Linked DNA regions of Homo sapiens. The protein of the gene in region 1 interacts with the protein of each later gene in a pairwise test. Each region holds a gene or a part of one and is shown in the gene's direction. Other genes may lie near its edges.

The links.
Region 2: the proteins of SCG3 (region 1) and SCG2 interact in a two-hybrid assay, tested with the Homo sapiens proteins (one study listed by IntAct).

Annotation. Positions count from the first base shown.
Region 1 is NC_000015.10:51,684,503-51,691,530, forward strand, and holds part of SCG3 (secretogranin-3 isoform 1 precursor), read left to right. Parts: intron 1-3,757; coding exon 3,758-3,900; intron 3,901-4,716; coding exon 4,717-4,866; intron 4,867-7,028. UniProt on the Homo sapiens protein: Member of the granin protein family that regulates the biogenesis of secretory granules. Acts as a sorting receptor for intragranular proteins including chromogranin A/CHGA. May also play a role in angiogenesis.
Region 2 is NC_000002.12:223,599,355-223,606,936, reverse strand, and holds the start of SCG2 (secretogranin-2 precursor), read left to right. Parts: upstream 1-4,575; 5' UTR 4,576-4,652; intron 4,653-7,582. UniProt on the Homo sapiens protein: Neuroendocrine protein of the granin family that regulates the biogenesis of secretory granules.

The DNA of each region.
Region 1 (7,028 bases):
GGAGACAAGGGCTGCAGTGAGCCAAGACCACGCCACTGCACTCCAGCCTGGGCGACAGAGCCAGACTCCATCTTAAACAAACAAACAAAACAGGAAAACCAAAGTCCTTAATGAAGCTTGCACAGTCCTGCATGGACTGCTTCCTGACTACATTTCTAGGTTCATCCTGCACACATAATCTGATAGAAACCTTGTTCTTGCCCTTCATGGCACTTCATGCAGTTTGTAATTTTACCTTCATAAGTGTGATTATTTATGATTAATGCCTTTCTCCAAAACTAAACTGAAAACTTCATAAGAATAGAGACATTGTAACCCCAGTGCCTGGAAGCCCATGAATTCATTGAATAAATTTATGAATGAATGAATGAATGAACAAATGAAATAATATATGAGGGAATAAATGAACTGCCATACCTAGGCATTAAGAAGGAAAGTGTGTTTTTCATTTTTGAGAACCAGTGCTTAGGAGTAAGTACAGGTTTTCTTCCCTGTCCTTATTCTGTTCCATAGCTACAGGAGATTTATGTTGATTATCTCTGCCAGAAAACAACTGACTATTAAATTGGACTTTCATAGGACATAATAACCTAGGAGTGTTCTGAAGTGTCACGTGTACCTATGAAGTGGGATGGAGGCAATGGGTTTATATTTTGACATATATCATATGCCATGCTACTCAGGGAAATTTACTTTTTAAAATCTTGAATTCGACTTTTTTACCTAAAATATTGGGACTACAAATAGACACTGATTATAACTGCATACAAAACAGATTCAACCACTTCAACTGAAGTGATCATTTGATTTAATAAAATAGCCTAATATTGAGTTGGCTGGATTGGTCAAACTTGTTGTACATGCAGGCAGAGACATAGATCTGTTTTTGATCTGACCGCTAATTTGAGCAACTAATTTTTTAACTGTTCAACATTTTATTACCATCCCAAGTATGTTTGGAACTACAAAGTGCTAGTCCTAATGACTTCAGGTTTACCGTAGGAGGTATTAACTCCACTTGAGATCACAGAGAAGACAGGCCAAGGTTCTTGGAGAAAATGATTTGTGAGTAAGCTTCTGGTCTCCCCTTGTGCTCTGGAAATCCTGAAACCAGAGGGTTTTTGGCCACTAAGTTGAATAGAACCTCAGATGCATGTAGACTTCATCCCAGAGGGGAAGGTAAAGGAAGCTAACTTCTGCCGGATGTGTTCCCAGACCTACTCTCGCCTTTAGGAAGCTTCCAAACAGGCTTGTACTATAGGACCCATCAATTCTCCTTTTCAGTGTTTTCTATAGTATGCACAATTTAGGATCTTTCCAAATTTCTCTTATAAAGTAGTGCTTTGGGGCTCCTGTATGCATTCGAATATTTATTGAGCAATTGCTATGTATTGGACTATGAGGTAGACAATAAACCCTGTGTAGTCAGGGAGCATGCCTAACCTTTACATCACTCTATTTCCAGTGTCTGACACATAATAAGACTTTAATTAAAATATATTGAACAAATGAATGTCAAGTGCTATGTTAGATGCTAGGGATTCAAAACATAACTGGGCAGATGATGACTTGGGACATGACCCTTTGACATTCACTTAGAATGTTGTGGCTACTTAACAAAAGTTATGTGTTAAACCCATGTTTGGCTCCCCTCTGGGAGTCTATACATGGAGGGTGAAATACCCCTTCATGAGCAGGAGGGAAGCCATTCTGAGTCATACTATCCATTTTAGAATAGTGAAGGAAATCAGGGAAAGGTGAGGAGCAATGGTCACACGTTCCACTGTTTACACCATCCAGCAAAGCACTGCTAGGGGAGACCTAAGTTCCTGGCTCAAGAGAGTACAGCAGTGCAGCAGAGCAAAGACTCTTCAGTGGGTTACTAACATCCTCCCTGTTGTGAAGTAAATGGACTGAAAAACAGTCATCTCAGTTATTTTCCAGGTCTAGGAGGCAACCAATATTCCTCCTTTTACGGATCCTGAGGGATAGATAAGTGGGAAGGGAAATAAATTCTTCCACCTCTGCATAGACTGGGGCAGTTTCTGCTCTATGTATTCCTGACAGCCTGACTTGCAATCCGCAAATGGAAAAATCAGACACATAATAGTGAGTCTCTGCTCCTGAAAAATAGATGACGATCCAAATTTTCAGCCAGCCAGGAGGAGAACTGATTTTATGTTTGTTTGTTTGTTTGTTTGTATGTTTGTTTGTTTGTTTTTCTTAGGGGCTTTTCTGCTTTTTTGTCTCTCTGGTACTCAGCTCAAAGGGCTCATGGCTCATGGGCTGGCCAACAGCTCAGCAATTTTGTACTGACAGAGAACTTCCAGTCCTCCATGTATAATTACCCCCACTCATTTTCCTAAGCTTCTTTCCAAACAAGAAAGAGATATTCTGCCTGAGGCTGCATATACCTCTATTTTCATAGAGTCTGAAAGAAAAGCCACGGGATAAATTCCCTGTCCAAATCCCCAAAACCCATGGAAGAAAAGAGCAGAATCAGAATAGAAATACTAGGCTCTTCTTTCTTTGAGTGAATATGATGAGGATTGTCTGGGCAGAATCTGGCCGGAGATTCAATTTCCATTTTCTCTAGGAGATAATTGCTGTTCCTTTGTTTCAAAATACAAATCCACTGTGCATAATAACAATAATACATTAGCTTTCATATATTAGGTTGGTGCAAAAGTAATCGCGGTTTTTGCCATTACTTTTAATGGCACAACAATCCCATGAAATAGATACCTTGTTAGACTCCTTTACAGTGATCCAAGGATATAGCTAACCAGAGATATCACTGGGGCTAAAATTCTGATCTTTCCAATCTTTCCAGAGGAAACAGGGAGAATTAAGTGCATTGTAAATTTGATCCATTCAATGTAGTATAGATTGGAGATGACTAATAATTGATTCCTGGAAGATCTCCATGGATGTGCTACAATGCTTCATTGCCACCAGCCCTTTCCCTCAGGATGGGCCCTTACTTTAGTCTGAAGTTGTATTGCCAAATGTATTCCTAGGAGAGCCAAGGGAGCATATGAGCATGCTTCTCTGCAAAGATTTACATATTGCTTTGTGCAGATCTGTTGCCATATTTTAAAAGTTTAAATTCCGGGCACATAAACTACAGTAAGATCCCTGTTCTCTAAGGATGAGTTTTGTCACCTTAAGCTGCCTTTTTTACATAAAGACACTCTAATACAAGTTCAATTAGAAGTAAATATTTATTTTAGGTGAGTCATAAAATCTTCAGTACACACTGTCTGATTCTGGGTGTGAGGTAGAAGTCCCTGCCCCTACCCCAGGAATTTGCCTGCAAAGGTAGTACATGTGGGGATATTACCAAACTATCTATTCCCTGTATGGAACTGGAATATCAAATCATACAATATATAGAAGGGTACATTGAATAATATGACATGCTATATAAATATGGCATACTATGTTAATAAAAAGTATAATATGGTTTGTATTATTGGTGATAACAATAAATGGAGACTACTTTTCTGTTGCCTTTAGCTTTTCCTTCCTCTTATAGTCACCTAAGAAAGTTTCAGAATGTCCATTATCATACTAAGTTTTTAACATGAAGACCAATTTTATTTCAAACCGAGGGTTTCTGTGGACCGAGAACCACCATAAATACATTTCAAACATATCTGAATATACAAAAGCGAAGTACAGATTATAAGTATAATATGATGCATGAAATAGATCTATGATCACTATGGTGTGAAGTTGTGGTCGTTCTGTCTAGATGATCCAGATGGTCTTCATCAACTAGACGGGACTCCTTTAACCGCTGAAGACATTGTCCATAAAATCGCTGCCAGGATTTATGAAGAAAATGACAGAGCCGTGTTTGACAAGATTGTTTCTAAACTACTTAATCTCGGCCTTGTAAGTCATTTGGTAGGAAATAAACCAAATTCCTAGTGCAGTTTAGAGTATGCCAAGAAGCCAAGTCACTTGCCTCAAGTAGCCAAGTGTTTATAATGTGTCTTCCTTCTACTAGGACCCGTAGGTTTTAAGGACAAGCAAAGCACCATTCTTTTTTTTCTAGGAGTTTATCATCCATCAGAAGAACTAGGCAAGTAGACACACGCCCAAAATGCCAGCTGCTTAAAAACCATAAGAGCCAGAGAATAGCTTATATCCAACTGGCAGTAAGGAAAGGCTTCAGAGGAAGAGGCGTATGAAGGAAGCTTAGAGGGATGGTTAGGATATAACCAGCAGAGGTAAAAGACATGTATGTGACAAAAAAAGAAATAACATGAGCAAAAGCATGTGATGTGTATTTTTGAAACTCCAGGTGATCTAATTTGAATCCACCTCAGCTTGGCTCTTCTGCCCTGACCTGGCCCTGACAGGCTTTATTAAGATGCTAATTTTGTAGGATGTCAAAGGTTATCTGACTATGACCCAAAGCTGTGGAGGGGCAATGCTCAGGGTGTTTCTCAAAATATGTGGTCCATGGGTTTCAACAGATAGAACTAACAGCTTGCATGGTGGGCCCGAAGATACTTCTTCCAGGAGTGCTGAGCAATCCCTATAACAGCCAGCATGTGGTGCAGGCGTAAGTGAGGGCTGTCTGAAAGATGGTTCAGAAGATTCCTCTTTAAAAAATACATGTTTGACTACAGTTTAGTCCACATTATTTTTTAATAACAAGACTGGGAATATAGCAGTTATATATGTTTTGCCTTTTTATGATAGATCACAGAAAGCCAAGCACATACACTGGAAGATGAAGTAGCAGAGGTTTTACAAAAATTAATCTCAAAGGAAGCCAACAATTATGAGGAGGATCCCAATAAGCCCACAAGCTGGACTGAGAATCAGGCTGGAAAAATACCAGAGAAAGTGGTATGTATGTGTATATATGCATATGCATGGGGGTGTGTGTGTGTGTGTGTGTGTGTGTGTGTGTACTTCTATCTGTATAATAATTGCCTTACTTGATACCAAAGAAGATTTGAGGTATGTGGCATTTTTAGCCCATTTATATTCAGGCCAGACATGTTGGCTCAAACCTGTAATCCCAGCACTTTGAGAGGCTGAGGTGGGAGTTGAGACCAGGAGTTCAAGACTAGACCTGGCAACATAATGAGACCCCCATCTCTACAAATAAAAATAATTAGCTGGGTGTGGTGGCACAAGCTTATAGTCTCAGCTACTCAGGAGGCTGAGAGGAAGATCGCCTGAGGCCAGGTGTTTGAGGTTGCAGTGAACTATGATTGCACCACTGCATACCGGTCTGGGTGACAGAGTGAGACCCTGTCTCAAAAAATTAATTAATTAATTAATTTAAAAATATGTATATACATAAAATACCAAAAAGTTAAAAGATATAAATGATCTCTACTCTGAAAATAATGTAAAGATTATGTTATATTCTATTATTTGGTAAAGATTACATCTTATACCCCACAGTAAAATAATACATAATAATATGTGAAGTAACAATATCACATAATAACATCTGTGTGTACAGTCCCAGTGAACTGCAAGCAAACATCTCACAGTTCTTTTGGTATCCAACATCTGTTCACAGCAGATGTCATCATCTGTGCCCAATCCCCCCACAAAGAAGTGGGTTGACTAGATCTTCTGCTACACCAGCTTTTGTGTTCCCCAGAGCTAGCTGCCTAATGCTGCCTCTCTGTTCTTGGCAATGCTCTTCCACCTGCTCCTTCCCCTTTTCATTGGTTTAGATGCCTATTTACCCAGGCTAATTTCATCCTTCCTTCCCTTTGTTGGACTCCTTGCGTCTTCATTTTTTCCTTAGCACCAACCAAGCTGTTGAGATCTTTCTCCCCACCTTGAATTCTCTTTAAAACTTTAGATGAAACTGACCATAAGGGGATATCAAATTCCTCATCTGTCCTTTGATTTTCCTCTGTAAAGCACCCAGACCCATGGCTCCTCATCTCCTCCAGCATCTTATCTCAAATACAAAGACTATAGAGGCTGATGGTTCTGTTTTAGAGAGGAGAGAAAATAGAAATTGGGTCTGGATTTCTTTTTTTTTTTTACTGGATAGCCTAAAAACTTTCCTCTGCTCTCCTTACTTCCAATCCTCACCAGCTGCCATCTTTTAAAGCAGCTTTTGAAGATTCACCCACTCAAAAAAAAAGTTCTAGATTTATCAAAAAAAAAAACCCTTATGACTTTTGCTCAAGCTTACCAGTCTGAGCTAAAATGGACACAGCTATTTCCATAATTCTTCATTCCCATTACATACTCCTATTCACCTATCTCTAAAATGTTCATATGCTTGACCTGTTTACTCATGTTACCTGAATGCATCAATGCAAATAAAACACAAATGAAATATTATTTCAACAAATATTTATTGAATACTAACTCTGTACCAAGCACTGGAAATACCATGCCTATTTAAAAAGACATAATCCCTGACTCATGAAGCTCAAAGTCTAGTGGAAGAGGTAGATCATGTTTAAATCATCATGTATTTTCATTACAATTGCATTAAGTGCTCTGAGGAAAGAAACATGGTTCTATGAGACCTCAAAAAAGGAGGCTGACCTGGACTTAGGCTCAGGAAATGCTTCCCTAAGGAAGTAACTTGAGCTGAGAACCGAAGATCAAATAGGAGTTAACTTGTGAACATGAGAGGCAGCACATAGAGAAGGATGTGTGGAGTATCCAAGCAACTGAAACAAGCACAGTGTTGCTGGCACAGAAAGAAAGAGCAAAAAGAGAAGAGACTGGGGAGGTGGACCCAGGCCAGACCATGCAGCGCCTTATGAGCCATGGATGGACTCTGATCTTTATTGTAAGAACCATGAGAATTTTCTGGTCCCCTGAAGAATTTTAAGCAAAGGAGTTACATGATCAGATTGTTAAAAAGATAACTCTGGCTATAATGTGGAAACGCAGTATTGGGCATAGATTTGGGGAGGGTGATGTTGCAGTTAGCAGGTGAGAAATGAAGGCTGCTTGGACTAGAGTGGCATAGTGGAGGGAGAAATGTGCAAATTTGGGATAAATTTTGAAAGTGGGGC
Region 2 (7,582 bases), on another chromosome or scaffold:
AGCAATTTGGCAGGCCCTGCCTTTGCAAGGGAAGGGGAAAAATATTTCACTCTTCTTTGACACTGAGTTAAAAAACAGTCATTTGTTAATAAAGCGCACTACAACTAAGAGAATGGAATTTAAATTTTGGAAGCAAAAGATAAAGGTGGTAAAGAGTAAACAAGGAGCGTAAAGAAAAAAAAGTAAAAAGAAGAGAAGGCAGGCAGGCAGGTGAGGACTGAGCAAGGACAAGTAGCCAAGGCCCTGAGGGGCCGGGGTAGACACTATACCCTCCTTGCTGGCACAGTCAGGTGAACGCTGGAGGACCTCAGCTGAAGCGTGCTGCATCTGGACTCCACCGTGAGAGTCTGATCTTCCATGGGAGGGAAGGGCAGGCAGGGAGGCAGTTAGAGACAGGGAAGAAGCAGACAAGAGAAAAAGGAGAAACAAGACACATTGGCCTTCTGGATCTCAATTGCTTCCATATAAATTGAAACAAAATGAGAAGTGTAATGGAGTGTAAGAGCGAGAAGTTTCAAATGAAAAGATTACTAAGGTAGAGGATTGCTTGTATGAATGATAGAAATCAAAATCTTGTCTAGATAAAATATGAAATTGAATAACAAAGAATAAAATGACCAAGATTTAAGAAAATCCGGTCATAAAAACAAACTCATCTGTTCTAATTACTTAACGTTAAATTGTGAATGATTAACTTGAAATTAACAGCACCCTGGTGAGGATGCAAGCTAATTTTCTAAAAATCCATTTTCATACATAGTACATAATTATTCTGAAAACGTTCACAATATAGAGATTCGTTTCTTGGCGGTGATGATAGTTGGCAATTTAGATCTAACAAGAAAATTAAAATTTTGTAAGGCATGCTTAAATAATTCCTTGAAACAGGTTCAGTGATACAAAGATTTATAGGTTATTTTAATGTTTTATACATGCTCTAAAATATTTTATGTCAACAAACTATTGATATATATATATGTGTGTGTACATATACGTGTGTGTATATATATATATATATATATATCATTTTAAATTCTTCTCCAAATACATTTCTATTTGAGAAATAGCTCCCTTTAGAACAAATAACTACTGGCAAAAAATTAGTGACTTTTGGAAATATGTTAAATATAACACATTGAAAAATCTATAAAAACAAAAAAAATTGATGTTGGCAATGTTATGGAGAAAAAGGAATGCTTATACACTGTTGGTGGGAGTGTAAATTAGTTCAGCCATTGTGGAAGACAGTGTGGTGATTCCTCAAAGATGTAAACTACCATTCAACCCAGCAATTCCATTATTGGTTATATACCCAAAGGAATACAAATTGTTCTATTATAAAGACACATGCATGTGTATGTTCATTGCAGCACTATTCACAATAGCAAAGATGTGGAATCAACCTAAATGCCCATCAATTACAGACTGGATAAAGAAAATGTGGCACATATACATCATAGAATACTATGCAGCCAAAAAAAGAATGAGATCATGTCCTTTGCAGGGACATGGATAGAGGCGGAGGCCATTATCTTTAAAAAACTAATGCAGGAAGAGAAAACAAAATACCATATGTTCTCACTTGTAAGTGGGAGCTAAATGATGAGAATACATGAACACAAAGAGGGGAACGACACAGCCTATCAGAGTGTGGATGGTGGGAGGAGGGAGAGGATCAGGAAAAATAACTAATGGGTAGTAGGCTTAATACCTGGGTGATGAAATAATCTGTACAACAAACTTCCATGACAGAAGTTTACCTATGTAACAAACCTGCACATGTACCCCTGAACTTGAAAGTTAAAAAATATGTTTGGGGAGTTTGATTTTGAAAAAACAGGCTGGTGAATAGAATTTTCCTAATTCAGCAACTGTTCTCTTATTTGGAAGATGTATGCCCCATAGCATCAAGGCTGTGATCTAATGTTTATTCTTGCTTTCCATTGGTGCTGCCCCAAATAGAAGTCCCGGCCTATGCCTTTGCTTTTCTTAGACCAGGAAAAGCAACTGGACAACTGGGGGTTTTTGTCAAAGAAACTAAATTCTGGACTTGGGTCTTTAATGATTAAATCCATCCCATATTTATTTCTGTATTTCCATCTCTAGCAGTGTCTGAATCATAGTTTTTATTGTAGAAATATCATAGAATGGACTTAAATACAAATTCTAGCTCTACCAATTATAAGTCAAAATAGTGGGCAACTTACTTATTTCTGAGCTTTAGTTTCTTCATCTGTAAAATGGAGATAAAAATACCTACTTGTTATAGTTGTCCGGAGGATTAAATTAGGTTCCAAGTACAGTGCTTGGATCATAACAGAACTCAGTAAGTGAGAGGTATTTATCATAGTCTCATAAGATAGGCAGAAATTCAATAGCCCACAATGGCTTATTGTTCTACCCACATCTTGAGCCTAGTGGAGCCAATCCATCCCAGCAACAGCCTCCTGGCATCTCACATCTACTTGGAGATTTTGAATGAGGTTTTGCATGTCTTTTGGATGATTGAAGATATTTCCAGGCAAGATGTTGACTCTGGGGCTTTAGAAGAACCGTAGCTTCTGGTTCTTGCCAAAAAGTTTAGTTCCACATAAATGAATTAGCCTAGTCAGGATGACTTTCTGGAGGGCTTTTGAGACCTATGCTGAACAAACTCAACATTTTAAGAATAATTGCAGAGTTTTCTAAAGCTGCGTTGATACTGGTTAGTTGAACTGGTCACACAGAACTGCTGGACAGAAAATTAGGTCAAACTTGGAGCAGCTAGCCAGGGCTTTGTTAAGATTTAAGGCAATCTTAGCTAAGGATGTCAGTGAATGAGCTGGTGTCATTGAGATGATGCTTGAGAAATGGGTCATATTTAGGTCTCTTCAACCCAGCATTTGATCATGCCCTAAAAAACCACTATGAGGCAAAATTTGTTGGATGAATTGGACATATAACCCCAGTCTGAGTGTATATGAATTCATATCAATCCACAAATGATGATCTCCTAGTCGTTTAGGAAAACCAAATAGGGAGAATCGAGGCACATTTTTCCAAGATTTTTTCTGTAAGACTTTAAGCCATTTCCTATTTTTTCGAGGAATTCAAAAGTACTAACATAGTTAGAAATCCTTGTAAGAAAACCTGATAGTGAGAAATCTCAGCTTAGGCCTTTTATTCCAGGACATTGTTTCCCCCTGAATTTCTAGGTTGAACCCATTGGCTATCCAAATGGTCCAAACACTGCTAGCTAACCTCTCTATTGATGCTTTCCAATTTATATGAAAATTATGTGTTTATTTGCATGTCATCCCCATTAGCTGAAAGGCTCATCAAAGGCAAAAAAATCACTTATTTTTGTATTAGTTAACAATTGTGCATTTAGCAATGTATCTGGCACCTAGTAGGTATTACAATTTATTGAGTCAGTGGCTGATTGTTCATTTAGCAGAAACACATGGGATCTCTTATATGGCAAGATTCTGTTGCATTCTTAAAGTATATGTCAACATATACAGTTTTTAGAAACTCATATCTTTAATAAAATAAAGTTTAAAATTTATATCCATATAAATTATTGAAATATATAATCAGGTTATCTGGTAAGGCAGAGGAATGATTATGAATTATAAATCTGAGAGGTTGAAAGTTAATTGCTGTATTATTCCCTGGATTGTTCACATTCATGGAAGGTATTCAACTCATCTGATTCAACAGGAGAAGGGAAATATTTATAGTACAACTTCCTTTCGATTGCAAATGAATTCTAGTTACGTATGTGTCACATTTTTCCCAAACAGTGAAAAGACTTTTTTTTTAAGTAGATGAAAGTATTTTCATCAGCACTCAACTTCTGAGCTTCCCTTTCTGAGATCAGATATTGTGAAAGACAGTAACAGAGATATAAAGAATTATTAGCTACTAAGCTTGAAGTCTGATAAATACCCATTTAAAAAACTATATAAGCTATTAAAGTTGGCTCTCATATAAAAGAGAGAGAACTCTCTGTTTTATTCAAATAAATATGATTTTAAAAGAATGATGGCTGTGGTCATGATAAGAAATATGGCCTTTCATATTTATAATGTGTCCTCCATTCATCTTGGTTATAACAGGAAATGGTAATGTAATTTCTTTGTGGGCAAAGATGAAAAAATAATCCTTGTCTGTAAAACTTTCTTACAACGACGACAACAATTACAACAGTGACACCAAGAAACTATTATAACAAGTTGCTAGAACATAGATGAGATTGTCTTGCAATTAGCCATGTCTGTCTGACACACATTTCTTTCTTTGTAAGAGAAATCGTGCAGAGCAGTTTATTCCGTCTCAAAGATTTTGATAAAAGAAAAAGGAAAACTGCAATTTTTGCCACAAAAAGACAGGTGGCGTAAGCATGCAACTTTTTTTTCTTTTCTTTTCTTTCTTTCTTTTTTTTTTTTTTTAAATATAAAGTGATTATTTTCTCTTGGTTCTTTGAAAAACCTCGCTTGTGCTGGGGTTTGTGGCTGAACCCGGTGACGTCAGTGTGGCAGTGCGGAGTCAGGCGCAGCGGCTCCCTATAAGCAGAGGAGCTGTCCGTGTGCTGAAACGGCCCGAGAAGCTCGCCCGGAGAACGGGGAGGAATATGCTGTGGAGCTCCTCTGCCATATAAACAAAAAGAGGTAAGGCTGCTTTTCTCTTTGATTTATTGGAAAGTTCCAAATTGCATGCTCTTCTTTTAATTCCTAGCTGAGAAGAAAAAGACTGTTTGGCAAGCTTATGTCGATAGGATAACTGAATAGCAACCTGCTGCTCATCAGCCAATGTAAGGACACTACATATGTGTATATACATGATCGGGTCTATGCTTTATACTACTTGATGTTGGATATTTACTAACCAGAATGTTACTTAGATAATCATATAAAAAAGAGTGAAAAAGTTAAGGATTTTAGTGTCAATACACAGATTAATGTAAAGTTAACCAAGCCCAATATCTTGTTTCTTTCCAAAATTTATTATTTCTGCCACTAAGAGCCAGATACGAAGCCAGGGGTATAATTTATATGTTTAATATTCTTAACAGTAGGTTTCCAATGATACAAAGGCTGTCAAGCATGTTAGTCATAAAGGCAACCCATTTTGGAACTAGGTTTTTTTTCTTTGATATTTATCTTACAAGAGCTCTGAATTAACTAACCACATAAAATTCTTTTCTGAACTTGTATATTTGAAAGAGCTTACATTATTATCTCCTAATTTTAGTTCTAAGATGTTAACTTAGGATTTTCCTGAACACTGGATTCTTCCTTTTTCCAGGGCAAAATATTATCTTGGGTTGTAATTTGGCTGTGACCATGAATTACAGAGAAATGATCATTTTGAATACATGATGAAAATACTCATAACTTTGTAAATTGTTATTGTTATTGCTATAATTTGATTTAAAGAGGATGTTCAATATGTTGCTAAAGATTTTGTCTGGGACAAGTATTTCATTTTTTCTGTATCCCAACTAGTTGAATTGCTTAAATTACATATAGTCACCTGCATGTGTCAATGCTCTAGCCTGAATTCAACAGAAAAGACATTTTAACTTGAGAGATTTTAATGATAGCTATCAGGGGAAAAATAATGTTCTAATTATTTGGATTTCAGAAAATTCAATTTTAAATCAAACCCCATATAGAATAGTAGAGCTGTTGAAACATCTTTACTACTTGAAAGAGCTGCTACCTGGGAAAAGAATCCTTTGGGTCTCACTCAAAGGCAATAACTATGTCATTCAAACTGAAGCTGAATAGTTAAGCAAAGGGTAGCACTTCTTAGGCTGTGGTTTAAACAACTGCAATGAGTAGTCTGCTTCAACTTTACAGCAAAGTGCAGTTCCAAGATAATGATTTTAAAGATGAGCATATAATCCACATGTTAAGACTATTTCAGTATTGTGGCTTCAAAAAAAATAAGTTCAGTAAGGTTTTTAAGATTATTATTTCAAATGCCAATGTTGAAAGTTGATTACCAAAGCTACATTAATCCTGAAATAATATAAACAAGAGTGCATAATGTATTTTTATTTGAACCTCATTATTTTATGAATAAAATTACTTATAGTAAACATGTATTTATAATAAATATTTTGGAAGTATCCTCTCAAATGCCTTTCAAGATGTTTCTTTCAATAAATTAAGTACTCTGGTAAACGTGAATCATTTAAATAGGTATATACGTATGCTAAAATGTTTTCATAACTAAGCCATTATTGGGCTCTAAAAAACTGGAAACAAAATCATCAATATGATCTTGTGAACAATGGTATTTTCTACAATTGATGTCTAAGCTAACAGAAAATTGTATACATATAACTTAGCTTATCTATCACAAAACCATGATCTGGTAAAGATATGAACAAACTTGTAAACTCCTCTTACATTCATTTTGTTTACAACAAAATAGCCAATATTAAAATAGTTTTTTCAATGTTAGCAATATTAAATGTAAAACACATAAAAACTAATCCTCTTCCTAATTCCTATGTAAGATTTTAAGGCATCGGAGGAAATAATGAATGGAGATTTTTAAGTAGGAAGAATTCAGCACATCATCTGTGTTTATTTGAATTGGGATTTACATAGTGGTTATTTTAAGATTTTTCTAAACAGTATGAGTGATTTAAGATTTCACAGGTCCATACCAAAATAGACACAGACAGAAGACAAACTGAATCTGAACACTCACAAGTTCAGAAATAGACTAGCTAAAAAAACTTATGTTCTCTCTGTAGCATCTGTTATTATTTACTATACACTCTGAAGGGCTGATGAAAAGTATAACCACAATTGCATTTTGCAAGACAGTCATAATATAAATTATTAGAAGAAATATGAAGCAAAGAGATTTTAAAACACTTTATTGGTTTAGCACGTTCACACAAAAAGAAACTTCATTGGTTTAGTCTACTGGCTGGAATCTGAGAAGACCCGTGTTCTGGAGGTTATTTATGGATCATTGGATTCGGTATCAGATTGAGAACAAGTTATTTCTGAAAAATATATCTGGATAGGACTCCCCAGAAGGTAATTCGGTATGATTGACATATAAAAGTATTACTTTGTCATATATGGTCATGTAACTGCAGCTGTGTTTCAGCAACAAAATTAGATGGACATTTCAGGAAATAAACCACATGTTTTTTGACACAACTTTAAGGACATAATTTGTGGGCGCGTATGTGTAAATGCATGTTTTAAATTAAGCCAACACATTATTTTGCCAATAGACTTCAATATATAAAATAATTAAAACATCTTGGGAAGTATTTGCTGCTTTATTATAGAGAAACAACATGTACTAAACATCAAACTACAAGTTCTGTAAATGAAAAAATAAAATTTAAGAAATCTCATATCAGTGTTTTTGCTGTTGTTTTAACTAAGAGAATGCTATGCAAGTTTTTGGTGAATGAGTAATAATTTTGCTAAAGATTCCTGTGGTTTGCTTGTGGGAATCATGTGGAAAATATTCATGAATTTTTAAAAAGAGTTATCCTAAGCTTAATGTGAAATAATATCTACTATGTTTTTTCCTCACCTCAATGATCAATTATTTCTTT